Homo sapiens: one gene and its partners. The protein of the gene in region 4 interacts with the protein of the main gene of each other region in a biochemical or structural test. Each region holds a gene or a part of one and is shown on either strand. Other genes may lie near its edges.

Region 1 (7,424 bases), on a different chromosome or scaffold from region 4:
ACTCCTGTGCAAACATTAGTCCCTCCTATTTTGTTTCCTCATACCAAGTCACTGAAACCTATATGGTATCAAAGCCCTAGAAATCTGAAGGCAGGTGCTTAAATTGTAGTTTCAGACATTCAACAGTATTTTGTTTCCAAATTGATGATAAAAACACCTACTGAATCTTCCCCAAAAATATAATCATGAGAAAGCTTAAGACAGAAACATGGTAGGAAAATTAGGAGCCAGACTGCAACAGTAAAAAATGGAGCTGTCATGTTTTATCATTTTTTAACTTATCAAGATCTGTTATATGGATGTCGTGTCTTATTATTCAACTCAGCAGACAATAATGCTTCTGATGGGTAAGAGGTGGGGCAATATCTGAGGATGCTGAAGTAAGACAGTTTTTCCTTCCTCTCTTCTTTCCTTTGCCTACTTATAAATCCAGGACTATAAAAAATAACCCTGGACATACTCAATGATCCAAAAATACTGTCTTCTTAACTTCAGAAGGAAAGAAGTAAGACAGCATCATGAGACTGTGGGCAAAGCGTTGAGTACACAGTCTGAAGACCTATATTGGGTTTCCCACCTCCACTTTCTAACCAGGAGTTTATTGCAAATCCCTGGTTTTTAGAAGCCTCCACTTTCCTGACCCCCCGCTAAGTGTTTTGAGACAATGATGATAAGTTAAATTGTTTATGAAGCAATAGTACCACATATATTTACCCACAGATACTATTTTAATAAATTTTCACAATCATTTCCATTTTGTAGTTCAGTGCACTGAACCTCAGGCTATTAAATAGCCTGCCCCACCGCCTAGAATGAGAAAGGCCAGGGTGCAAACTTGGCACAATAATTCTAATTCTTGACTTTTCTAATTTTATTATTTTTGTGCGTTGGGTAGATGGAAAGGGGAAACCCAGGGAGACTGTGTAATGGAAAAAGAAAAGGTGGTACAGTGGGCATCTGCAAAGGAAGATAGTTCATGGAGTGTTAACCCACAGGTGCAAAGGTGAGGGCTAGTGGAAGGAAGGAAGTCAAATAAATTTAGATAATTCATAATTAGATTTTTAGAAGAAAGATGAAAGAAGACATGAAAGTGCTCCTAGTTGACCTTGATTTAATAATGATATTTTTCTGTACATTTTTTAAAAAACAGTCCTGAACATACTTCGAAAATCACCAGCAGAGGGCTTCATGCTGGGTGCATTTGCTTTTAATTATAGACTCCGACATTTACTGAATAATATTCCCTCTATATGAGGCTGAAAAAAAAAGAGGGTATGAATAATTCTTTTCTTTGCTGTTTTAAACTGAAATAAATGCAAATGAAAGAGGAAAGTACGAGTGTTAACTATCTGGGATGTCTCAAGTGCGGTTCCACCTAGGAGAGCATGTGCGTAACCTGAAAAAGAAATATGGACATAAGGCAAGATAAAATAACGAGGAAAATGCATATTTTACTCGTTTAATTTCCTTCAAATCCAGAGTTTGTTTTGCCTTTGTGTTTCCATTTACTGAGTTCTTGCGGGAATAGTTTCCCTACGTCATGTGATTGAGTGATAACGCGAAAGGTAATAGAAAGTAAAAGCAAGAGAGGTAGGTTCAAGTTAGGAAAAATTTTCTCCGTAGCGGCTGAGCTTTTATTGTGCGTTTCTTCGGGCGTTTGAACTTTTTAGATGCTGGAACGATCGTTTCTAAAATTAGTAAATATCATAAGAAGTGAACTTTAAAAATGTTCCTCTCAATACCAGGTTTTCAAGAACGGAAAGAAACCTTTGCCGAAAAAGAAATCAAGGAGACTTGCAGGGTTTGCGTCTATAAAATTCCGACAGAGGGCGCTGTTGCCCGTTCAATGACAGGGAACGGTCCGTGGGAACGGTTTACCTTGCAATGTCTAGGACTTTTCGAATAACGCCCACGTTAAAAAAAATAACTAGGATTTTAATTATGGTTATGTATTTTGAAGGTATTTCTCTATATATATGTGTATATTTTTAGGTTTATGCTTCATTCTTAATAAAACCAGATTTGTTATTTTTCAGGTTTCCTAAAGAACTTAAATTTTAACCAAATATCTCAAGATATTTCCACTTTAAAAAATACCTAATACTAGCATAAAATAAAATTACACATAAAAAGTTTGAAATTATTCATATATAAGGCTATAAAATAGTTATACTAACACAATACCTTATATTATTTTAATTTATGTGTAAAATTATCTCTTGCAGGTTTTGTTTTGTTAAATCTCAGAGTTTATTTATTTTAGACTAGGCAATAATATACCAAAAAGATATTAAAAGGTGTTAAAAGCATTTAGAGAAAAAAAGTGAGATTTTTCCAAATGCATTTTATTTGGGTTGTAATGATCTTTAGGTAATAACAATGACAGAATTATTGATTTGAAAGGGAGAAAACAATTATTTCCATTAATTAAATGTCTTGTGCCTGGAGAATCTGAACTTCCAAGTCTATAATATTTATCTTTCAGATTATTGATCTGGCACTGATTTTAGTTCTAGAAGTCAGGGGGTGTGGAACCCGTTTCAAGTCCCACCACACAATAAGATTAAGAAAAATCCCTTCTCATCTCCTAACTAGCTCTGGAAGCAAAGAAGAAAATCTTTGCTGATGCTCCTAGTGAAAAATCTGTATAGATTGTGTATGATTTAAGGTTAACATTTAAAGGGGAAGAAAGGAATGGAGAGAGAAAGGAAGGAACGAAAAGGGAAATGAAGGAAAGAAAAAAGGAAAACAAAAAGGAGGAAGAGGAGAAAAGGAAAGACGAAACATAAAAAATTCAACCGGAAATAAGGGGTTTATTTCTGAAGTTCCTTCTGAAGCACCTTCTTTGTGTTCTTTTCCTTTGACTTATCTTTAAAAATTAAATTAAAAATCTGCAGAATTGTTTATTCTGCAGTTCATGAAGCTTCTCCTTGGTTTTGATTGAATCGACGTCCAACAAGGTTGTCCGGAGCCCTGTACTCAAACAGCGTCCATCCCTGTTCGCGCAGAGCTGCACACAGCAGTCCTGGATTTAAAGACAATCACCCTTTGCAGATTCACTCTCACCAGGCTTAATAACTTCCACCCCAAATTGCCCCATCCCTCCTCGGTCCCTCCTGGCATTTCTTTTCTGTCCCAGGCGCAGAGATCCTCTTCTGGGCGTCTGTTCCGGCTATGAGAAGCTCTCCGCACCCTGAAAGGGAGTAGAAAAACAGAGGGGATGGGAAAGGGGGAACAGGGGAACAGATGAGTATTCATTTCATGATAAAATTCAGAATCCCTGCGCCTTAAATGGTGCCCATTTTCTAAGTCTGGTTAATATTGTTCTTGTTGCTGATGATGTTTTCCTTTTTAAAAACTATATGAATCATCTTATTAAGAAAAATTATACAAAAAAAAGAAGAAACTCCACATGCACTAAAATATTTTTCACTATCTCTTTGAAGACATTCTGCTTAAACCTTTTCAAAGATTCGGGTGGCCCTTTCTTGACTCTCCATGATTAAAACCACTTACAAGTCATACACAACAGATGCAAATATAAAATGTCCTTGGCCTCTGCAAAAAAGGCTCAAAATTAACCTTGTCTGAACGTGTGCGTACGTTGCTTCCAACATCTGAAAAAAACTTGATAAAATGGAGACTCCAGCCAAGAGGAATGGTGCATGGAATCCGTTGAAAATGCATACAAACAACACCTAAAATAACAAGCAGCACAAACTGAGGTGTATTTAAGTTTCCAAAGGTTTTAGGTAAAATGACCAGAAAATATTAGAAATGGTCATCAACGGTGGCTAGCTTTTTTGTTCTATGGTGACAGAGATAAAGTTAAAAAAAAAAAAGTTGTGTAGCCATCAACACAGAGATAGTCCTTAAAATCCCCCATATCCAGCCTTTCAAAATACTCTCTTCCGGAACATACATGAATAGGAGGGAGCTTTTGTGTTTAAAAATCTTGGTAAGTGTCCCCCTTTAAAATCTACATAGAAAATAGGGGACTGATGGCCCCTGGTTTCTCATTATGAATTGCAAAGACTTCAGTTAGTGGCTACAATGATGTGTCATTTTCGATATAGAAGTTATAAAATGTATATATTATATTAATCACCCTGAACAACTCTTTGTTAAATGCACATTTGGAGTCTGCAGACTGTGTGACCCAGAGGTGCTTATATAACTATATGTGGGTGTCTGGGTGTAAATACGGGTTTATGATTTTTATAGTATATATGTCTGTGGGTTGCATCTAACTCCTGTGTGTGCAATAATGTTTTTTCTCTTTGCTGAGGCTTACTTGTCCAGCCTATTGTTTGAGACAACAGATATAAGTTGCGATGGGAGAGGAGCGTCGGATTTGGTGTGTATCCCCCATTTCCAATTATAGATGGATCATTACAGACAGCGGAGTCCTGAGAAGCCAGACATCTGCTCCTCACATGAATGCACTCACCTCCTAGAGACCAGGCTGCCATCATGCTCTGGAAGCTTGTGGAGAATGTCAAGTACGAAGATATCTATGAGGTGAGTCGACACCCCCAGATGCACCTTAGAGCTTTGCAGATAGAGAATTTGAGCTTCTTGATACCCCAAATGATATATATTTTTAAGCTATTTACTCGTAGATTTCCGGTCGGTTTTCTCAGCTTTTTTTAACTTTTAGAAAAGCTGGCTAGGGAAGACTTCGCTGCTCTGAAAAGGGACTTTAAGGCTGAAATCTGACAACTTTAATTTAGGAATGTTTTTATTTATTTTATTTTTCTTTCCCTTTTCCTCGCCTCCCCCCACCCCACCCCACCCTTTTAAGCTCTGATGGGGAATGTGGTGCTACTGAATGTGGGCACGCTCTCAGAGAAAATCGAGATTCTGATAAAGTCAGGGGCTTTTCTCGTTTTAAGTGTGGAAGAGAATTGGGTTTTCAAGCCTCATTTGTAACAGACTCGGGCTTTTAATTTTTATTTTCAATAAAATTTCTGAAATTGATAACAAATGGTTCCAAGTAGAGGACAGAGAATTAGCGGGAAAGAAGTAGATGGCTGGAGATATGGATGGATAGAGCAAAATAGAAGTCGTAGCAGTTTATTAGTTTCTGTTTTCTTGTGTTTTGCTTCCTTGAGGGTCACTGCGTCCGAACAGAAATCGCAGCCGCCTCCTGTGTGGGCATCTTTCACGGAAATTTCTGCCCACGTTCAATGCGTACGGGTCTCTAGCACTGAGGCTAGCTCAACTCTTCGGGGCAGGAGAAGTTGCGCCCAGCCAGGAGGACGCCAGCCGCCTCCGGGGCCCGGACCGCGCTCGCCAAAGCCCTTTTCCGGCTCGGGCGAGGGCTGACGCGGCCAGACGGCTCCGCTACTCGCGGGCGAGGCGGACTAGGCGGACGAGGCGGCCGAGGCGGGCGAGGTGGGAGAGGCGGGCGAGGTGGGAGAGGCGGCCGAGGCGGGCGAGGCGCGGGGCGCGCGGCGGGCCAGGCTGGGGACCGGGAAGCCCGCGGAGCCTCGCTTTTAAGCGGAATGGTCTGGGACAGCCCCAGGTGGTTGCCAGGGGAAGGGAGGAAGGGAAGGTTCTGCTGAGACGTCGAGGTTGGAAATAAAAACTTCGGAAAGGCGAAGCGGATTTAGAAAAGGAGGGAAGTCGAGGCGGGCGAAGCGGGCCATGGAGATTGCTAAGAGGAAAAGTTGGAGAGAAAAGGAAGGAAGAGAAGCAGACTCCCGGGTGGCGGGCGCGGGCCGCTAGGTCAGACGAAAGGTGGAGGGATGCAGAGGCTCCCCAAAGAGCCGAGAAAGACACGCGACCCCTCCGGATCGGGACAGCTCCTGAAAGCCCGGCGCAGAGCCGCCTCGAAGATCCTAAGAGTGGGCGACTCACAGGCGCGGCCGGCAAGCTCCTGGGGGACTCGGGCTCGGACGAGCGCCCACAGGCAGCGCCTGGCGCCCACACCTCCTGCCCCCCCCCGAATCCTAATGTTGGGGTGTGTGTATGTGTGGAGGTATGTAGGAGAGAGGAGGAGGAGATAAGAGAGGAGAGGGAGAAAAGCAGGAGAGAGCGCGAGAGAGCAGAGAGGAGAGAGATTGGTCTTGTTGCTGAATGATGCTTGGGGTTTTCCTTTTCTCTTTGTGGTTGTGTATCGACTGTAACGAAGAGCCGCGCCTACGCGCCTGGTGGGGATTGTTTCGGTTCGGCCTCCTTTTCTTTCCTTAACAGGCGGGATAATGGTAAAGTCCAAGGCGCTAGAACTGTCCTAAAGAATATTAGCGCCCAAAGTGGGCATGACATTAGCAAGCACGGGGCCATGGTGAAAACAGCTCAAGCTATATGCATGCAGAGGCATTTCAGTGGGTTCTAAAAAGTAACCAGGGTAACATTCGTTCTTTACAGAAAGTAAAGTAGCTAAATGGAAAAGGAAGGAGGGAGAGAAGAAAGGAGGGAGGGAGAGAGGAAGAGGGAGGGGTGGAGTGGAAGGGAGGGAAGAGAGAAGAGAAAAGAGGGGAGGGAGAGAGAGAAAGAGAAATAAACAGGGAGAGAGAGGGAATATTACAGGTGGTCCTATCTGCCTAAATTTTCTGCTCAAAAAACAGAATCCGCAGCTCGGTGGAAGGAGCCTATTTAAGTCTGGACTAAGGTTGAACTTTAACAGAAATGGCAGTCAGGCCAGTTGAACGGGTTCCTGAAACATCCAAAAAGGTTTTCTGTTGCCCCTGGCTTTGCCTGGAAAGGATAAGTTTAGTGTATTTGAAGATTGATGGCGTATGTTTTAAATTGAGGTAAAAATCGCAAACTATGTGAGCACTAAACAGGAAAAGGCTGCACAGGAATGAAAAGCCTCCATCTCGCTTCTGTCCTTTAACAAATGAGCATAATCTTCCACATTTAGCAAAAGTCTGCAAAAGTCACTGTAAATAACCAGGCCCACCAATTTGCCTTTCTCTCGCCTCCAAATGATGAAGCAACCCTTTTTATTTTGTTTTTGTAATCCTCACACAAAGCACCCAAGGCGACCAAGTCCTCCGGATTAGGGAAGTCTCTCTCCAGGTAGGAGGACACCTCCATTCTATACAACCTCCCAGCACTGTTCTCCCTCACTGCCTTATCCAAAGGAGCAGGGGCTGCTTTACTCGTGTCCCCGGCACAGTTAATTGAAGTTCTGCCTCTTTCCTGCTAAACTTTTTCCCCAGTCTGCCTTTGCCAGCCCCCTCGTCTGATTACATCTAGTAATTCTCCACTGAATGAACGTCATTTACAATAGTAGGGGAGCTCTGCGCTCGCTGCTGCTTCACGCTCCATTTGTCCTCTATTCTCCCTTTAAAGTACTCGTGTAATATTAATAGTCATGAATATCAATTATTATGAGGCGGTGTAGGCAAGCGGAGGGAGGAAGGGGCGGCCGAGCAGTCTGAGCCCAGCTTCGGGTGAAAGAGGACTGCATCTGG
Region 2 (7,028 bases), on a different chromosome or scaffold from region 4:
AGAAAAGTTTTGAAGCAATTTGGCCTACCAAATGAATACCTGTAAAAGGAACAGAGCTTGGAATGATCTGTCAGAGGGAGAGTTTTGCAGGATGGGGAGGAGGGGATTTGGAAAATTGGATTACTTGGTGAGTGAGTGGTTTATGAAATTAAGTTACTTAACTGACAGGATTACCAGGATTACCATTTTGACTGTTTTGGGAAATAGAGTAGGCCTAAATTGAAGGTAGTTTTGGCCTGTTACTTGAACTGCTTAAATGGATTGAGGATGGAGGAAAAATGGATTTTAAAGAAAAACTCAGAAAAGACTACAAATTTTCAGTAAACTTAGAACGTATTAGTTTGGATGATTAAATTTACTGTGATCAACTGCACTGAAAAATTTTGGAAAGAATCTTAATGTGTCCTATGATTTTGGTTGTTCTTGAGGGGAAAAAACTCACCGTTTATTTAGTATTGAAGCAGTCTTCTGAAAACAAATGTTCTAATTAAATAGTTTTCAGCAGCTGCTAGGAAAAAAAAAAAAAGAAACCCTCCAAGCTTTGGATCTTCACTAATTAACTTCCCAAGGTGTTAACTTGTGAATTTCAGATTAGATTTGTCTCTGAAGTAGGGGGCTTTTTTAAAAAGTCAGCCATGGCCAGGTGCAGTGGCTGACACCTCTAATCCCAGCACTTTGGGAGGCCAAGGTGGGCAGATCACTTGAGGTCAGGAGTTTGAGACCAGCCTGGCTAACATGGTGAAACTCCATCTCTACTAAAAATACAAAAAATTAGCTGGATGTAGTGGTGGGCACCTGCTGGAGAATTACTTGAGCCCGCAAGCTGAGGCTGCAGTGAGCAGAGATCACACCACTGCACTCCAGCCTGGGCCACAGAGTGAGACTCTTATTATTTTTTTTTTTTAAATAAAGTCAGCCTGCAGTTGATCGTGGGGTGTGCAATGATGCTTGTCTAAAGATCACTTTCAGCTTTGGTTATTGGTTTTGAAAAGGTCTCTTTTGCTCAGAGAGAGCTCTTGTGACTGCCAGCTCTGACCTTCATTCACAGGTCCCATTTCCATGACCAAGAACCCTCTGAACCTCCCCTGTCAGAAGGAGCTGGTGGGGGCCGTAATGAACCCCACTGAGGTCTTCTGCTCAGTCCCTGGAAGATTGTCGCTCCTCAGCTCTACGTCTAAATACAAAGTGACAGTGGCTGAAGTACAGAGGCGACTGTCCCCACCTGAATGCTTAAATGCCTCGTTACTGGGAGGTGTTCTCAGAAGGTACTTGGGGCACAATTCTAGGCATAGTGGTTGGGTAGTTGAAGGTGAGTGTATCAGAGGCCCAGGAGGTATTTTTAACATTTATGTGACTTTATGCCTAACACTGAATTCTAATCGGGTTAGAGTTTTAGTACATTTCTTCTCCTTTAGAAAGTGCCAAATGTGGGAGGAAGTGCTAAAACGACGCTCACAAATTCTCACTTGGTTAGAATTTGATCCCATGTATGAAGTGATAGCATCTGTATTGAGGGGAGGTGGGGGGAGCACCCTGGGTTTGTTCCCCAGGGAGTTTTTGTGGGGCCGTTGTAGTTTCACAAGTGAAAATTTGTCTGCTCCCATACAATTTGAAATATTCGGTGATGCAGAGTTGGATGCTAGGAAAGATTGATTTTGTATCTTACGGGGACTAATTGAAAGAGGACCCTGCTATCACTTTTCATTATGGTTCACGTGATGTAGATAGTCTTTGATGGGTTTCAGCTTTGACAGCAGCACTTTAGGAGTTTAGAATTTTTAAAGTGTGCGTGTGTATGTGTTTTTGTTTTTGAGAGTAGCCAGAGTCAATTTTTCTTTTTCTTAGAGCCAAATCGAAAAATGGAGGCCGGTCCTTGCGGGAGAAGTTGGACAAGATTGGGTTGAATCTTCCGGCCGGGAGGCGGAAAGCCGCTCATGTGACTCTCCTGACATCCTTAGTAGAAGGTCAGTGGGGTTTTGTTTTTGGTTCGTGATGTTTTTAATTTGTGCCTGTGTCTTTAATACTTATTGCAGAAAAACTGGAAAACAACTCTTAAAACTTGGTTGCAAGTAGAGATGAAAGCAATTGGAATTGTTCTCTAAGTTTATTGGAATGAATCACAGTTAATTTTATCGAATAAGTTAACATTTAAGTATCTGGTTGCTCAGGTAGGCTCTTCTGTATTCCCCCAGAGAATCAATGTTGGAAAGAAACTGGTTTTCCTAACCTAAGAAATCACACTCTAGGGGTGTCGGCATTTCCTGTTAAATGAACCAGTTTTTTTGGAAGATAACAGCTGATCATTTGGTACACCTTGAGTAAAAGCTGGTTACTTACTGGTGAGCAGAAGTACTGCTTCTGTTTTTTGTAGCTGTGGGTTATTTTGTAGCTGGGGATTGTGGTCAGTGAAGAGAACCTCTTGTATACAATACGACTGGCCCGATTCACAATTCTATTCTTCCCTCCCATCCAAAGAAAAAAACTAATCGAACCCCTGGCCCACGCACAAGTTCCTCTTGCCAGTGCTAAGATAGTAGGACATAGCATTTCAGTTTCTTGAATGGGGGGCCCCTTTACCCCAACCTGGACAGTAGCCAAGAATGCAACACAACCTTTAAAAGGAGCTGAAGGGAAAGTAAAATAATTTTTTAAAAACAAAACAAAGCATGTTGTTACTGCTCCCGGGAAGAGTTGGACGCTGAGAGAGGCTTAGGGCTCTCACTATGGGCAGGGGAAGCCAAGGAGAAACGGGCTCCCCGTGGCAGTACCCTCTTTTGAAGACTTTCTTTCCTTGCTCTGATGGCGTGACGTGGTGCTCAAAGAGACTTGGCAGAGTCCCTGCTTTACCTTTTACGAGTGCCTTTGGAGGTCAGGGCAAGGAGAAAGGAGCTGCCTGTCTGAGAACAGCTGTCCTGCCTGTAGAATCGGCGGTTCTGCTGGGGTTTCTTGCTAGCCAGGCAGGGTGATTGAATAAGAAAGTGTGCTCCAGAACAATGGCTCTCCAAGGCTGCTTCAGTCAACCCAGGGGGCCCCTCCACCATCTGGGTTTTTGCAAAGCTCACCAGTCCTGCACCCTGGAGCCAGGGAAGGTACCTCTTGGGTGGGAGAAACTCTCTTGGTTGCCTCCCTTAGCTCTTCCACTGACTTGGACAGGGAAAAGGGTGCTCCAAGTTGGTTTTTAGGAGAAACATCCCTCCCATCTTTTTTAAAAGAAACATTCTAGAGATCTGCCCCTTCAGTAAAAAGGCACTATTAAAAAAAAAGTAAGCTGTCAGATGTCACCATTTTATAGAGAAGTGACTAGTTTGCTTTTGTCAAACATGTTTATAGCCCTTAAATTTTCCTACTTCCCCAAAATGATACTACTTAATATAAAGAGAAAACATGGGTATGTTTGATTATCTGTTGAGCAGAGGACTGGTAAACATTTTTCAAGTTTACTCATCTCAGTATCCATGGGGCACTGGTTCCAGGTCCCATACCAAAACCTGAGGATGTTCAAAATGTTATATTTGTATATAACCTACACACATCCTTCCGTATAGTTTAAATCATCTCTGCATCACTTACTTATAATACCTAATACTATGTAAATGCTATGTAAATAGTTGTTACATTGTATTGCTCAGGGAATAATGGCAAAAGTCTGTGTGTGTTCAGTACAGACACAACCATTCATTATTTCCCCCCCGAATCTTTTCAATCTGAGTTTGGATGAATACAGATTCTGAACCCACGGATACAGAGGGCTGACTTGATTGTGCAGTTAGAAGTTTCAGGGTCTTTTCTGCTCACATTGTGTGATCTCCACCCTCTATTCCTGGGGTGGAGGACCTACTGAGAATCCCTAGAAAGTTCTACCTACCAGCTGAGTTGTCTGCCCTGTATATGATTTCGTTCTTGCATGCAACGTATGACTGGTAGACAATGAATACTACTAGAAAGAGAGAAAATGGGGGCTGGGTGCTGTGGCTCATGTCTATAATCCCTGGCATGAGCCATTGGTTGAGACCAGGAGCTCAAGACCAGCTGGCCAATGTGGCAAAACCCTGTATCTACTAAAAATACAAAAATTAGCTGGGTATGGTGGTGCATGTCTGTAATCCCAGCTATTCAGGGGCTGAGGCACGAGAATTGCTTGAATTCCGGAGGTGGAGGTTGCAGTGAGCAGAGATCGGGCCACTGCACTCCAGCCTGGGCAACAGAGCGAGACTCCGTGTCAAAAAAAAAAAAAAAGAGAGAGGAAAAGGGCAGTTTGGCCTCAGTGACCACAGCCATCCTAAAAGCTGTTGCTGATTATTCTAGGTGAAGCTGTTCATTTGGCTAGGGACTTTGCCTATGTCTGTGAAGCCGAATTTCCTAGTAAACCAGTGGCAGAATATTTAACCAGACCTCATCTTGGAGGACGAAATGAGATGGCAGCTAGGAAGAACATGCTATTGGCGGCCCAGTAAGTATCTGAACTTGAATTTGATGATGACTCAATGCTCTAGACCTTGAGGTTGAGAAGATTCCCCCTCCACAGTCCCGATGGCTCAACAAAGAAATATTCTTGAAATAAATTAGGGTGGAGCAAAAGAAAATGGCAAGGGAGCTTCTTTTACAAAGTCAAATACATTAACTTTTTGTATGATTTAGAAGAGTGCATGACTCAGCCATGAGTATTTTTGAGCTGCTTAGTTATTCAACCCAAAGTAGTTGAGCTGCCCTTTCATTATTGTGTTAGCATATCTTACAAAAATGTGTTGAAAACCCGATTTGTTTTGTCACAACCAGTAAAGAGAGATTGTGTGCCTTCTACCTCCTGATAGCAAGACTTTTGTCTTTCAAATGTAAAGATCAGGGTGGATTTGTGGGCAAATTAACTGTCTCCAAAACGACTTAATGCAGCTGTGGGTTTTCTCATAGAAACCAACAGTAAGTTGATTTGAAAATGATGGTAAATGAAGCAGAACTAGTCGAGCCAGGAAATGGGGTAAAAGAGAGCGCAGTGAACCAGGCTGTGTCAGGAGTCAGAATTTCAGGGGGATGCTTCCTTCTCCCGGTTCCTCACGGAATTTGTTTATTGGAACCAACTTGTACCAAGGTAAACTGTCCCTTAAGCTCATGGGTTGGAATCCAGGCCCCATTACTTTTACCAGTCCTGGTGACCTTGGCCAGTTAGCTGGGGTTAAGTTAATCCTGTTGTCTTTTCTAATTGCAGTGAGGATTAAATAAGATAGTGCTTTAAAACAGCTTAACTCAGAGCCTGGCGCAGAATAGTTGCTAAGCGCAGCAGTTGGCTATTAGTATTAAATTCTCCTTCCTCGGGTTGAAGCAGTTGTGCTTGCCTCCCGGGCGCCAGCCTCAGTGTAGTTGGTTCTGTGCTCTTGACCTGTAAGGAGCTAGATGGAACTCATCGAGTCAACTGACTGTCTTCACAGGCAACTGTGTAAAGAATTCACAGAACTTCTCAGCCAAGACCGGACACCCCATGGGACCAGCAGGCTCGCCCCAGTCTTGGAGACGAACATACAGAACTGCTTGTCTCATTTCAGCCTGATTACCCACGGGTTTGGCAGCCAGGCCATCTGTGCCGCGGTGTCTGCCCTGCAGAACTACATCAAAGAAGCCCTGATTGTCATAGACAAATCCTACATGAACCCTGGAGACCAGAGTCCAGCTGATTCTAACAAAACCCTGGAGAAAATGGAGAAACACAGGAAATAAAATTGGAACGAAGAAAGGTTAGGAGAGTAGGGAAGGAACAGGACTGCAAAAATCCTTCTCCACCGCACAGACTGGGAACCCCTCCTGGCCTGGGGGAAGAGTTTGTTACCTACCTTACTATTTAAAGAGCCTTCACTGGTTCTGCATCACCCGCCCCTGGACTTCTTAGTTGTTTCTCTAGCGCTGAGCTATCTCCTAACTTTGGACCTATTATCAGAAGGTGACAAGTACTGGCTCTTTATTCATTAAGCTTTTTTTTTTTGAACCCCATTCTTTCCTTCTCTGAAAGTGGTGCTATAAGTTTTAGAATCTTTTAAATACATTCCCTGGGCCAACAGACCCACACACTTAGCCATTGAAATGTCAAATTGATGTGCCCTAGATCAACAGATCAACAATACCTTTTTTTTCAGTGTTAAGGTAATGGTTGGTTTTTGTGTCCGCTAAATATTTACCTTGAAAAAAAGAAAAGTGTGTATCTAGCTTCTTCAGAGATCAAGTCCTCTGGTAGGAGGCAAAGGTTCTATCTGCTTAGCAACTAGTTAATAAGTGGTATCTGACACACTCTAAACCCCGTGTTCAAACGGGGGCCTTCTGGTTTTAGGAAACTTGTAGAAACGAAGCCTGCTGATTGATTTTTTTCTCCTTTTTTTTTTTTTTTTTTTTTAACTTTGAAAGTTAACTCTTCAAATGGGAGACTCTTTGAAATGACATGTTCCTTTAAGGTACTGAAGCTTTATTTGCATATTTATTTCAGATGTTTCGAGTAAACTTGAAAAGGGTAGGCACGAAGCAATTTGTTGCTGCTTGTCACCCCCAAGTCCCCGTGGAGGTTCTGTATTTTAAGAAACAGTGCGTTGAGTGTACAGATTTTATTTATGCGTAATTTAATGGGGTCTGTAAATACTGGTGCACTTCTTACGACTTTTTTGAGACATGGGATCCAATTTTAATATTAACTTTTAATGGTGATGGGGTAATCTATAACACATCATAAGGTTTTATTCATATATATACAGGGTATTAAGAATTAAGAGGATGCTGGGCTCTGTTCTTGGCTTGGAAGATTCTATTTAATTGAAACTCTCTGTTCAGAAAGCAATAACTTTGTCTCGTTCCTGTTGGGCTGAACCCTAAGGTGAGTGTGCAGTACAGTGTGTGTGGGTGAAATGGAGATTTGGAATTGAACTCTCTGCCTGTAAATGTTCCCCAAATAATTGTTGTGTGTATGATACGTGTATAATAAAAGTATTCTTGTTAGAATCTGAAAGTCTGGCTATAGGTTTTTGTTTTTGCTTTTGTTTTAAAGTCTTTTGGGT
Region 3 (7,028 bases), on a different chromosome or scaffold from region 4:
CTGGGGCCCACTCCGCTCGGATGCTCAGCGCCTCAGGGGTCACCAATTTCACCACCCATCTCTAGAGAGCACCCTTGACGGCGAAGGGGAAAGGGTCAAGGCAGAAACGCAGGCCAGGCTGGCTGGGGGAGGGCAGGGCCGCCTCCCGGCCGCCGGGTGAGGTAGGGAAGGGCTCGAGCCCGAGGAAGGGAAGTAGCAGAGCCACAGAATTTCAGAGCCGGACGGAAAAGCGGGGACTGTGGCCCAAAGCCTGGGATCCGGCCCTGGCCGGGATGAGGGCCGGGGTCGGGCAGGATTTGGGGGTGATCCACGACGCCCAACACGCGGCCTCCCCTCTGTCTCCGCAGGCCCCGTGTCCCTGTCCAAGTCCAACAGCAATGCCGTCTCCGCCATCCCTATTAACAAGGACAACCTCTTCGGCGGCGTGGTGAACCCCAACGAAGTCTTCTGTTCAGTTCCGGGTCGCCTCTCGCTCCTCAGCTCCACCTCGAAGTACAAGGTCACGGTGGCGGAAGTGCAGCGGCGGCTCTCACCACCCGAGTGTCTCAACGCGTCGCTGCTGGGCGGAGTGCTCCGGAGGTGAGGCCCGGCACGGCCCCGCCCGCCCCGCCCCGCGGCCGGGGGAACCACTGCGCTTGCGCCGGGGCGGTGGCGGCGACGCAAACAGGCCTCGCGCCGCGGCCCTCCCTACGCGGGAAAGGAAAGGGGGCGGGGAGAAGAGCGTAGAGCCAAGTGGGCGGGATCTGGGGGCGGGGGAGCGGGCGATGCGGCGCGCGCCTGCGCTCTCCGCTGCTTTCCCGCGAGCGAGTTCTGGTGCGCGCTTCGTTCGCTGCCGCGCGCTCGCGGAGTCCTCCGCTCCGCCCTCCTCCTCGCGCAAGCGCAGCTCGCTCCGCCGCGGGCTCAATCCCGGCCACTGCAGCCGCGGGGCGCCGTACAGCCACCTTTTCCCTCTTCGCGCACACCTTGCAAGCCCAGGAAAAGTTCCTCTCAGGCTCCTCGCTTTGCCTTACCTCTCTGAGTAGGGTCTCCGAGGGTAACCGGTCGTGCCTTGTATAGGGTTTTAATAGAATGGCTTTTAACTAAAGGAAGAGAATGGTTGTCCTCTTGAGTCCGCACGCCATGCTTTCCGGTCGCTGTCATCTCCAGACCCCCATACTATAGGCGTTTGCATATGATGATGATTCCCAATTTACTGAGGCCCTGATGTGTGCCAGGCTGCGTGCGAGCATGTTTACGTGCATTGTGTGTAGTCACTACCAAGGAATGCATCTGTTACATACATAGCCAGGGATTCTTACCTCACCCCTGCGAGGTTTGAGTGATTCATTTAGTAGATAAGATTTTATAAGGGTCAGCAAGGTAAAGCACCTTCCCTTAGGGCAGTTTTCTCCCTGCTGTGGGCTTCCTACCCCTAGGATTCCACTGCACGTTGTGAGTTGTGGGGCTTGTGTTGAACTTACCCGGATAATGTTTCTTCTCTTCTTTAATAATACTGAGAACTTCATTGTTTTGACTGTTATTCATTTACTTATGTGTTGATAGACCCACAGTTCCTTTCTAGTGGCTATATCCCGCACAAAGCCTATAAAGATCATTTTTTGGAAGGGTTTAACATCAACCATTCTAGTCTTTTCTTCCTCCTGCACAGTCATTTTGCTTTCCCTTTGTAGTCTTTCACTGACACAGATCTTTTCCTTGCCCTCTGCTTTTTCCTTCCCTTCCCCCATCCCCAATATTGGAGACTGTTTACCTAGGGGAGTATAATCTAATCCACACAATTAAAGAGCACTTGAGTAGGGAATAAAATCTGAAATTAATTAATTTGCTGTTTTATTTAAACAATTTATCTTAACCACTTTCTGATTATGGGATTCTATTTAGACATCTGTTTAGAACTGCCTCCATTGTCTCTGAAATCAGTGAAACTTTTAGGGCTGATATCAGCTTTTGACATTTCCAGTTAGGCTGGTGACATGGCACGTAAACAGTTGGCGAAACGAATTTCCCTTTGGGGCTAGAGCCAGAGCAAGAAACGTGAGAGTGATGATAACTTTGGTTACTCGGAACAACCTAACAGCATATCTTGCAAAGACAGTTTTAAAGACCCCATTGGGATTGGTGTGATTGTAACAGCAGAGAAAATATACAGGAATCAGTTGAACTCAATACCTCAAACCCTAGAGATGGGGCTGTGTTTGTTTGTGGTTCTTCTTTAGAGAGTTGGGAAATCAAAACCTTCCAACCTGCCACAAGAGTTGCAATAATAACTGAACGTAGGGGGTGCTTTACAGTTTAACAGGCGTTTATCTCCTATGAACTTCTGTACTATTCCTAGGTTTCCCTCCTTTAAATGTCTTGGGGCCAAGCTTCTCAGTTTTTGAAAGCACATTTTAGGAAGCTTTCAAAATGATTTTAATGTGGTGCAGAGCAACCCAATGTTTTCTAAATCCCTTTCTCGCATATATTTGTGAAACAGGGCGAAGTCTAAAAATGGAGGAAGATCTTTAAGAGAAAAACTGGACAAAATAGGATTAAATCTGCCTGCAGGGAGACGTAAAGCTGCCAACGTTACCCTGCTCACATCACTAGTAGAGGGTAAGCGAATCCACTTGCTAACTAGAAGGAACTTCCTTCTTGGAAAATGGATAATATTTAGTGGCCAGATGTTTGGTCGTATTTTATGTCAGTTGGGCAGTTTCATCTTTGCAGAGAATATAGCCAGATGTGAATGGAATTATTTCATGGCAAAAAGAAACATTTGCATGTACTCCTATACCTCCATCCTTCTTCCTTCTTTTCCTCTACCATAAAGTTACACCTCCCCAGCCTAATTCTGAGCTAAACAACGCACAAGTTTAAGAACTGCACATTCTCCAAGTTTGTCTCCTTTAAAGGGCTCAGCAGTAAATAACTTAAGTTATTCTGACATCTGCGTTTGAGAAATGCGTGACCATTACTTCCTGAATTAATTTGGGAATCTTTGACCTGCGTCCTGATTTAAGACCATCCTGAAAGCTCAGGGTTATGTGCCCTTTCAGGTCTTTGTTTTCCAAACATATGCTCCCTTATCTCTTTAATTGTGCTTTTCTCTTGGAGAAGAAGAAAAGTGAGCAATTTTTGATTCTGGATGATGTGGATATGGAAAGATAAATATAAGCATTGCAAAAAGTTTCTCCTGGTAGCTTTAAACATACATACACCCTTCCAAATGCCTCAAAACAAAAAGCCAACCCTTATCCTCACTCCCTGCTCTAGATAACTGCCACCGGAAGCCACTCATATTCCTGCTGCCTCTAGATTAAGTTTTTCTGATACAAGATTGGCCTAGGTTTTGGTGTACTGGAATGAATCTATAGCTCTCCTGTGTTTTTCTTTGTGTCCTATTGTAAATATCTCATGCTAACAGGGAAAAAAAAGTTACTTTAATTACCAGACAGATTTTAAAACTAGCATGTATATATATTTAAAGAAGTCATTTTATTTCATTCACATCTTGTATTTGAGGAGATATATTACAATTGAATTTAAGTTCTGGCTTTGTAAATTATTTTTTAAAATGTTTAAAACCATATATTTGAGGAGGAATCCTATGAATTCTCTTTGTTGATGATGTCAGAGATTGATAGTAATATAACTGTTTAGAAAATCAGCAATTGTTCAGTGCCAGAAACTCAACTACAGTACCATTACATTAAAAATCATAACAGTCCATAGAGAACCCACTATTCATACTCCAAAAGAATTATAAGCCAAGAAAATGGTAGTGGTGGCTTAAGGTATAGCGTGGAGTTCGTCTGGGTTTGGGGGTTGAGTTCTGTAGCAGGGAGGCAGTTTCTGGAGAACTGTTATTGTTTGTGATCCGCTCCATTTTATGGAAACAAGCTCTGCGGAGAGGGCTTTGATGCTCTAATTGGCGCATGCGTTCTTCCGGAGCTGGAGCTAATGGCAGGAAGCCCTGCAGTAAAAACCAACTGGTTCAGGAAATTAAAACCAAAGATTCGAAAATCAACAACACAGACAGACTCAGTGGAGTGACCCTCAAATCCTCTTGGTTAATCGGTTTGGATGAACAGATAATTTATGTGATCAAGTTAAAATGTAACCCCTCAGTTGTTCCCTTGCAGAAAAGCTCAAAGAGTAATTATGAATATCATTTATGAATGTGTTGATAGGTGTGAAGTTGGAATACAAGAAGCATTTTAAAAGAGAATTTGGAGAAGTGTCATTTAGGGTGGGGGATGGGACTGGAGGTTGGTGGATGAGATTTTCATTTTCAAGTCTTCTTGGCCCTCTAGGAGAAGTGGTCATTTTTCCTGATAAATGCATCCACCAGATCCTACAGAGAAGGAAATAAAATGCCTGAAATGAGAAAACAAGTAGTTTGTGTTTCCTGCAACATCTGGGGTGAAGGGAATTAGGGAGTTGGGAGTGGGGAGGAAGTTAGGATCCCCACTCTTCATTCTCTCGCACTGGCTCCCTCCTCTCCCCTCTTGCCAGGAGAAGCTGTCCACCTAGCCAGGGACTTTGGGTACGTGTGCGAAACCGAATTTCCTGCCAAAGCAGTAGCTGAATTTCTCAACCGACAACATTCCGATCCCAATGAGCAAGTGACAAGAAAAAACATGCTCCTGGCTACAAAGTAAGGCATTTACCTCTATGGGGTCTCTGTGTCTCGTTGTCAAGAGAAAGAGAAACAAAAATCGTTTTTGCTCTTCCTTCTCCCTTGTTTTCCTTTTGTGTTAATCAGCTTTGTTGCAGTTATAACACCATCTTATATATAGTCTATGTTAAGGAAGAAATACAGGTGGGATTCTTGGGCGCTCCCATCTTTTTCCTCTCATCTGTCCCATTTACTCATTTTTTTTTTTTTTTAATGAGTGTGTATGGGAGTGGGTTGTAGGAGGGGTTTGACTGAAGTTAAGGGTGGATTTGTGACTATGTTGTTTCAGAAAGACCAGAATCAAATCCTCAAAGGGGTAACAGGCTTACCTATATCAGTTTTTGTATCCTATCAATATGTTCTCCAAGGGCAAAGATTAAACAGTGGCCTGCAAAATGTGCAAGCCAGAAGCTGTCCTAGTTTCAACCCTAATCTGTTATTCCATTTCTTACCTTCCTTTCACAACCCCTTCTCGAAAGTGACACACACACACACACACACAGACAGAGAGAGAGAGAGAGAGAGAGAGACCCACACCCCACATAAGTTTTAGCCCACAGGCGAGAAGTCAAATAGATTTCAAAATGGCCCAAGTTATATTCCCATCGGTGCCTGGGCTGAATAGGCTTCTCCAGGTGATGTGTGAAAAGAAAATGACTGTTTTGATGTGTTTTCTGGAAATTAAAAGGCTTGTTTGGAAGCCCTTAATTATCAAAGTTGATGTCACAGGAGGGCATGGAAGCAGAGGGCAGAAGCTGAGGCCTTGGGTGGGACCCTGTTTCTGGCCTGGGGACATCAGCTGGCCTTGGAGAAGGGAGCCAGCCCAGGCTCCTCATTCATCCCCCTCCCCAGCCCCCCAGGCCAGGCTGCTGCTGCCCCTGGAAGGCCCCAGCTAGCCCTTGCTTCCCAGATTCAGAGACAGAGCTTCCTGAGTGCAGGCCTCATCTACCTCTGCGAAATTTCAACTTTCTCTTTCCCCAGGCTTCGTAAGCACACCCATCTCCACAATTTCCCTGCAGTATTTTTATTTTGAGCTATGTGGGGAAAGAGGAGGAATGGGAAATCGAAATGTCTGTTTCTTCTTCCCAAACACTACTTTGAATTATCTCCAAGTAACAGGGCTTGTGTGGGCCCGTTTTGTTTTTTTGTTATTCTTGTTTTTTAAAGGCAAAATAATCCCAAGTAAAGTTTTGTCTCTCTGTCCACATTGACCTGAATTTGATTTGAAGGTGAACGAGTGTGGACTTCATTCTACAAACTGCTGCTGAGGTCTCTCTAGAGGAGCAGGGAAGAGGGTCTTTATGACATTTTGAATAGGAAGGCTGATGGCTGCAGCATAATGTTCGCAAGATGCTACTGTTTCTGACTTCCGGTCTGCGTGACTCCTTTCTTTCTCTTCCAATGTGTGAAATGGTTTCCTATGTCTAGGATGTTTTGTGTGAGGGAGAAAGGTGGGAATAAAAGTTTACCATATCTGAGAGGAAAGAGAGAGAGAGTCATTTGTGAAGGTAGGAAGTAAAGAGAGATGGTTTAGTGGTCACTGAAAGGTGGCTGGATCTCCCAACATGTGGCCACACTGTCTGTCTCTGGGGTCTTGGGTCATGTCAGGTACCGGCTGGATCCCGGCAGAGGTAGCTGCAGGGAGGGAGGTTTTCTCTTTGCTGCTAGTGCTGCCCATAGTGGAGCCTTATGTCTCTCTCTCTGCTCCACTTGTGCTGCAGACAGATATGCAAAGAGTTCACCGACCTGCTGGCTCAGGACCGATCTCCCCTGGGGAACTCACGGCCCAACCCCATCCTGGAGCCCGGCATCCAGAGCTGCTTGACCCACTTCAACCTCATCTCCCACGGCTTCGGCAGCCCCGCGGTGTGTGCCGCGGTCACGGCCCTGCAGAACTATCTCACCGAGGCCCTCAAGGCCATGGACAAAATGTACCTCAGCAACAACCCCAACAGCCACACGGACAACAACGCCAAAAGCAGTGACAAAGAGGAGAAGCACAGAAAGTGAGGCTCTCCTCCCGCCCCGCCCCTCCCACGCCTCACCAGCCCCCCGCGCGCCCACCCTCCGGCGGGTGACAGCTCCGGGATCAGCAACCCTTCCTGCTGCTGCTACTGCTGCTGCTGCTGCCGCCGCCGCCGCCGCCGCTGCCCTTGGGTCCCCCCGAGTCTCCGGGACTGCCCTCTCGACTGTCAGTGGGGCAGCCTCTCCGACTCTGCACCCGCCTCGACCTCCCCACCCGCTCCCACACCCCTGTGCCCTCATGTGGAGCCTAAGAGAACAGAACAGGCCGTGAAGCCAGCAGAGAAAAGTTCTGCCAAGTTTGTGAACCCTTTTTTTTTTAAACAAAACAACAAATCAACAACAG
Region 4 (5,734 bases):
GAACATGCACCAGGTTGACACAGGGCCTGGAATAAAATCAGCACCAATTTGTAGAATAATAATTGCCGTCACTTACTGAGAACTGCCCAGGTATTTGGCACTGTGCTAAAGGCAGCGTAACTACCTGAGGAGACGGGGACCATCTCCCTCTGGGAAACCGCCTCAAAAATCAGAACGGATGGTGTCTTGGGCAAAGGAGAGAGTCAGGGTCCAAAGCTAGGCTGTCTGAACTCGGTGCCACCCAGCTCCTCTCTGGCAGAGCACCAAGCTCCCCCCACCCTACCCTAGGAGCTGGGAAGCCCAGTGGGTTACCCCACCACCCAGTGGCAGCCTCTGCCCTCCAGGTTGTGACATAACAATTGCACAACCCACGAGATATTTTTGAAAGAAACTGTCGGTTTCCTCTCCTGGGCACTGCTGGGGACTGTGGCCCCCATGCCATCCAGTGTCTTCAGCAACCTTGGGACTTTGGAAGCTAAATATAGTCAGGGCTCGGGGTGATAAGGAAATGAAAACGGCAAGACTGTAAAGTGACCCAGTTTTATTTTGGTTTTGGAGGCCAGACAGGGCATTGCTCCACGGGTTCGGGCTGTACAACCTTCCCCTCCTTGAGGTGGGAGGCCCAGCAACCACAGGGCCCAGGCAGCGGGGTGGGAGGCTCAGGAGATGGTGGCTCTGGGGACCCGATCCCGAGGAGAGAGGGGGCAGCAGGCAGAGGCCTGCAATGGCTCAGATTGGGGGAAGAGGGCGGCGAGGGGGAGAGGACACGATCCAAGAACCAGAGTCCGAAAGCTGAAGCTGGTCCGGTCTCTTTCACTTTACGGCCGAGGCTGGGGTCAGAGAAGTGAAGCCAAACTGTCCTCCCGCAGGAGGCAAGGCCTGGAGGGACGCCAGGGTCCCAGTCCGGTGCCGGGCCCTGCGCACACAGCCGCCGCCTCCACCCTCGCGGAGGGCGCGCGCGGGGCCCAGTCGCTGGGTGCAGGGTCCGGCGGGCAGTCGGGCCCTTTCTCCTCTCCGGCACGCCGGGCGGGCGCCGGCCGCCCTCAGCAGCTCACGGAGCCGGCGGGCGGCGCGGACCCCAAGTCCGAGAAGCAGTCGAACTCGCTCTGGCCCAGGAAGAGCTCGGGCAGCTCGCGCACGCGGTGCAGCCCGAGCTCCAGCTCCAGCGACGTCAGCGCCTCCTCGTCGATGAGTTCGGCGTCCATGCCGCCCAGGGCGTGCGCGGGCGGCGGCGGGGCTGCGGCGCTTGGCGCCGGCTGCGGGCCCGGGGGGCCTCCCGGAGCGTTGGGGGGCGCGGCCGCGCGGCCGGGGTACGGCGTCGCCACAGGCTGCAGGTGCGCGATGCCCGCGGCCGGCGGAGGCACGGCCGGAAAGGGCTGGAAGGAGGACGGCGGCCCGAAGGCCCCGTACGCCAGGGCCCCGGGTTGGCGGGGCGGCGGCGGCCCCAGCGGAGCCCCCCGCGGCCTCAGCCCACTGTCCAGGCCCGGGCCCGCGTACGGCGGCAGAGTCCGGAGCGCATGAGGGCCATGGGCGGCCGCGGCGGACGGCGGCCTCTGCACCAGGCGGTAGCCCTCGGCGAGCATCAGGTGGTCGGCCATGGCGGCAGGCCGGCTGCCTGCGGGGACAGCGCGCGGTGGTCAGCGCCGGCTCCCCCGGCCCGGGCCAGCGGCTGCTCTGCGGCGGGAGACCCGGGCACCGTGCGGTCCCTGCAGCTCGGCCGGGCGGAGCAAAACCAAACCCGACTGGTGCCCCGGCCCAGCCCACTACTGCGCACCTTGCGGCCGCAGCCTGGGGTCACAAAGGCCCGCAACCTGTAGTGCTCCGAAACCTCCGCGTCGCGTAGCTGGGCTCGGCGTATTCTTATACCCAGAGGCGGGGCTTCCCCGCCCTCGGACGCTCATTGGCTGGGCGAGACGCTTCTGGGCGGGCCGCGCACGCCTGCATCTAGGTCTTGGCCCCGCCCCTCCCACTGGAACCCCGCCCCTTGGGACTCCGGCCACGCCCCAGGCTCTGAGCACCGCCCTGGGGCGGGGTATTTGGCACTTTCGGAGGGATTCGGTCTGGCCCTCAGGGCTTCGGAATCGGACTTGGCTGGGGTAGAGCTTGAACTGACCAGAAGGTGGGGTGGGAGGGCCAGAGTTTTAGGCCCCCCAAGAGCTGCAGGATGTCAGGCCTACGCAACCTTTTAACTTTCCAGGTAGAGACCGAGGCTCAGTGGCGGAAGAGGCTTCCTGGAAATACACAGCAAAGCCTTGATCAAAGTGAGACTGCACAGCTACACAGGGCGCATGCACCTTAGCGGTGCAGGGTCCCCGCAGGAGGTCAGCTGTCCATTCCCATAACCCCCAGGAGAGCCTGTTGCTCCCCCTCTAGTTCCCACTGCACCTTGTCTGTTGAAGCATGTACTTAGTTGTTATTAATTTATGGGCACGTCTCCTGAAGGACTTGTTCATCTTCTTCTTCTCAGCACTTGGCCCAGAGCCTGGCCCAGAGCAGGCTTTTAGTAAAAGCTGAGTGAATGAACTAATGATGGAATGAATTGCAACTCTCAGCTGAGCCTCAGTTTCTTCATCTGTAAAAGGTAAAGAACAGCAGCACTGACCCTTTGTGAGGGGTAAGTGAGGGCATGTGTGCACAGTGCCTAGCACAGTGCCTGGTATGTGGTAGATGCTCAAAAGTGTCCCTTAGATGAAAGAAAGGCTATTTAAGTTCTTTTTTTTTTTTTTTTTGAGACGGAGTCTCGCTCTTTCGCCCAGGCTGGACTGCAGTGGCGCTGTCTTGGCTCACTGCAAGCTCCGCCTCCCGGGTTCACGCCATTCTCCTGCCTCAGTCTCCCGAGTAGCTGGGACTACAGGCGCCCGCTACCACGCCCGGCTAATTTTTTTTGTATTTTTAGTAGAGACGGGGTTTCACCGTGTTAGCCAGGATGGTCTCGATCTGCTGACCTCGTGATCCGCCCGCCTCGGCCTCCCAAAGTGCTGGAATTACAGGCGTGAGCCACCGCGCCCGGCCAAGGCTATTTAAGTTCTGTCCCAAAGGGCCTTCTCTTGATAACAGCAATAATAACTTGGACTTTTAAAGTGCTTTACATTCTACAAGTATTTTGTTGGGGGCAGGGCATGGATTATCAGCCCCATTTCAGTGATAAGGAGAAGCACACAAAGAGAAAGTGGCTGTCCTGAGGTCACAGGCAGCCAGAGTTAGCGTGTGAATGCCATGTGTTTTCCAAGTCCTTAGGGCAACTGGAGTCTTTCCTGTGGCCAGGAGACAGCCTCCCAGAACCTTACCCTCCACGCATTTGACACTCTCTCTCCCTTCTCTGACCTTCCCCCGACCTGTGGCATCCTTGGGACTTCCTGGAACTTGGGTTTATCCAGTTGATGTAGAGGGGAGAGCCCTAGAGTGAGAATTCAGGGGCCCAAGGTCTTTTCTTCCCTCTTTCTTCTTATTTTTTTAAATAGAGAAGGGAGCGGGGGGGAGGGGCGGCGTGGGGGAGTGAGGAGGGCCTCAGGCTTATCTCGAATCCCTGGCCTCAAGTGACCCTCTCACCTCAGGCTTCCAAAGTGCTAGGATTACAGGCATGAGCCACTGCGCCCAGCCAGAGGCCCAAGTTCTAATCATATCTCTGCCACCCACAGGTGTGTGACCTCCACCACCAACCAGCTGTGACTGTTGAGTGTTGAGCGGGGAGTATTACTTGATTCCCCAGGGCCTCAGCTTTCTGCTCTGTGAAAGGGAGACGGTGATCTTGCCTGGTCAGCCTGAGAGCTTGTGGGTAGTGATAAATGACCATGGGTGTGGTCACATTTTTGCAAAGTGTAAAAAGCTACACCCTGGAATTTATTCTCCTGAATCTTTCTCTACAGGTAAGGCTTCTCACAGAAATTCTTAAACCTGGCCATGCCTCACACTTATCTGGAGATGTGGGGGGTAAGGGGTGGGTGAGTGGGGGCTTTGATAAAGACGGAAAATCTGCCCAATTTGGGAGATGAAAGTGAGAGGATTGCTTGAGCCCAGGAGCTCAAGACCAGCCTGGGAAACATAGTGAGACCGTGTCTCTACAAAAAGTTAAATAATTAGTTGGGCATAGTGGCATGTATCTGTAGTCTGAGCTACCCAGGAGGCTCAGGTGGGAGGATTAGCTGAGCCCTGGAGGTGGAGGCTGCAGTGAGCCATGATGGCACCACTGCACTCCAGCCTGGGCGACAGAGATCTTGTCTCAAAAAAATCAACAAGCAGGCCAGGTGAGTGGCTCACGCTTGTAATCCCAGCACTTTGGGAGGCCGAGGTAAGTAGATCCCTTGAGCTCAGGAGTTTGAGACCCCTGTTTCTGAAAAAATAAAAAATTAACTTGGCATGGTGGTGTGCACTTGTAGTCCTTGCTACTTGGGAGGTTGAGGTGGGAGGATCACTTGAACCTGGGAAGTTGAGGCTACAGTGAGCTATGATCACACCACTGCACTCCAGCCCGGGTGATGTAGGGAGACCCTCTCTCAAAAAACAAAAAAAAACAAACAAAACAAACAAAAAATTATTCTGCCATCATTGGTCTTAGGTCACCAGCATTTGGGAGCCATTGCACCACCAGATGATTTTCCATTTAAAAAAAAATGTGTGTGTAACTAATGTTTAAGAAGTTCTTTAGGCCGGGCATGGTGGCTCACACCTGTAATCCCAGCACTTTGGGAGGCCAAGGTAGGCAGATCACCTGATATAGGAGTTTGAGACCAGCCTGGCCAACATGGTGAAACCCTGTCTCGACTAAAAATACAAAAATTAGCTGGGTGTGGTAGCACACGCCTGTAATCTCAGCTACTCAAGAGGCTGAGGCAGGAGAATTGCTTGAACCCAGGAGGCGGAGGTTGCAGTGAGCCTAGATAGCGCCACTGCACTCCAGCCCCAGCGACAGAGTGAGACTCCATCTCAAAAAAAAAAAAAAAAAAAGAGAAAAGACAAAAAAAAAAAAGGAAAAATAGAGTAGGAAGGAGGTTGGGGTGCAGGGGAGGAGGGGAGCAAGTTGTAGTATTAAGTGGGGTATCTGGGGCAAAAGCGGGCTGGGCGTGGTGGCTTACGCCTGTAATCCCAGCACTTTGGGAGGCTGAGGTGGGTAGGTCACTTGAGGTCAGGAATTTGATATCAGCCTGGCCAACATGGTGAAACCCCGTCTCTACAAAAAGTACAAAAATTAGCTGGGTGTGGTGGCACGCACCTGTAGTCCCAGCTACTCAGGAGGCTGAGGCAGGAGAATCGCCAGAACCCAGGAGGCAGAGGTTGCAGTGAGCCGAGATGGTGCCACTGCACTCCAGCCTGGGCAACAAAGCAAGACTCTATCTTTAAAAGAAGAAAAAAAAAAAAAGCCGTATCAGCAGAGAGAACGCTGGAGCAGCACTTCTAAAACTGTAGCAACAAGTCCTGAAGTGTCAGCCTTACCAGGGACCCCATTAGAAATGCACATTCTAGGACCGTACACCAGACTCAAATCAGTTTCTGAATCAGAAACTGGGCTGGAATTCAGCATCTGTGTTTTAATAAGCCCTGCGGGTGATTCTGATTAAGGACCTCTGAGTTAGGGGGAAGCCTTAGGCAAGGGTGAGCCGCAGCCCTAAGGGAGTGTGGACAGAGTGCAGTGGGGCTAGGAGGGTAGCAGGGAGGCCAACTGCATTGAGGCCTTGCAAGGACTTTGGCAGAGGAGTGACATGATCTGGCCTTTGTTCTGAAAGTGTTGCTATGGTCA

The links.
Region 1: the proteins of CITED4 (region 4) and TFAP2B form a complex in vitro, tested with the Homo sapiens proteins (one study listed by BioGRID).
Region 2: the proteins of CITED4 (region 4) and TFAP2C form a complex in vitro, tested with the Homo sapiens proteins (one study listed by BioGRID).
Region 3: the proteins of CITED4 (region 4) and TFAP2A form a complex in vitro, tested with the Homo sapiens proteins (one study listed by BioGRID).

Annotation. Positions count from the first base shown.
Region 1 is NC_000006.12:50,814,452-50,821,875, forward strand, and holds the start of TFAP2B (transcription factor AP-2-beta), read left to right. Parts: upstream 1-4,440; coding exon 4,441-4,521; exon of another isoform or gene 4,522-4,575; intron 4,576-6,980; coding exon of another isoform or gene 6,981-7,026; intron 7,027-7,424.
Region 2 is NC_000020.11:56,632,305-56,639,332, forward strand, and holds the end of TFAP2C (transcription factor AP-2 gamma), read left to right. Parts: intron 1-1,048; coding exon 1,049-1,265; intron 1,266-1,845; coding exon 1,846-1,964; intron 1,965-4,305; coding exon 4,306-4,450; intron 4,451-5,423; coding exon 5,424-5,709; 3' UTR 5,710-6,979; downstream 6,980-7,028. UniProt on the Homo sapiens protein: Sequence-specific DNA-binding transcription factor that interacts with cellular enhancer elements to regulate transcription of selected genes, and which plays a key role in early embryonic development.
Region 3 is NC_000006.12:10,398,059-10,405,086, reverse strand, and holds part of TFAP2A (transcription factor AP-2-alpha), read left to right. Parts: exon of another isoform or gene 1-347; coding exon 348-579; exon of another isoform or gene 580-585; intron 586-2,476; coding exon 2,477-2,595; intron 2,596-4,497; coding exon 4,498-4,639; intron 4,640-6,381; coding exon 6,382-6,670; 3' UTR 6,671-7,028.
Region 4 is NC_000001.11:40,860,530-40,866,263, forward strand, and holds CITED4 (cbp/p300-interacting transactivator 4), read right to left. Parts: upstream 1,835-5,734; 5' UTR 1,599-1,834; coding exon 1,044-1,598; 3' UTR 525-1,043; downstream 1-524. UniProt on the Homo sapiens protein: Acts as a transcriptional coactivator for TFAP2/AP-2. Enhances estrogen-dependent transactivation mediated by estrogen receptors. May function as an inhibitor of transactivation by HIF1A by disrupting HIF1A interaction with CREBBP.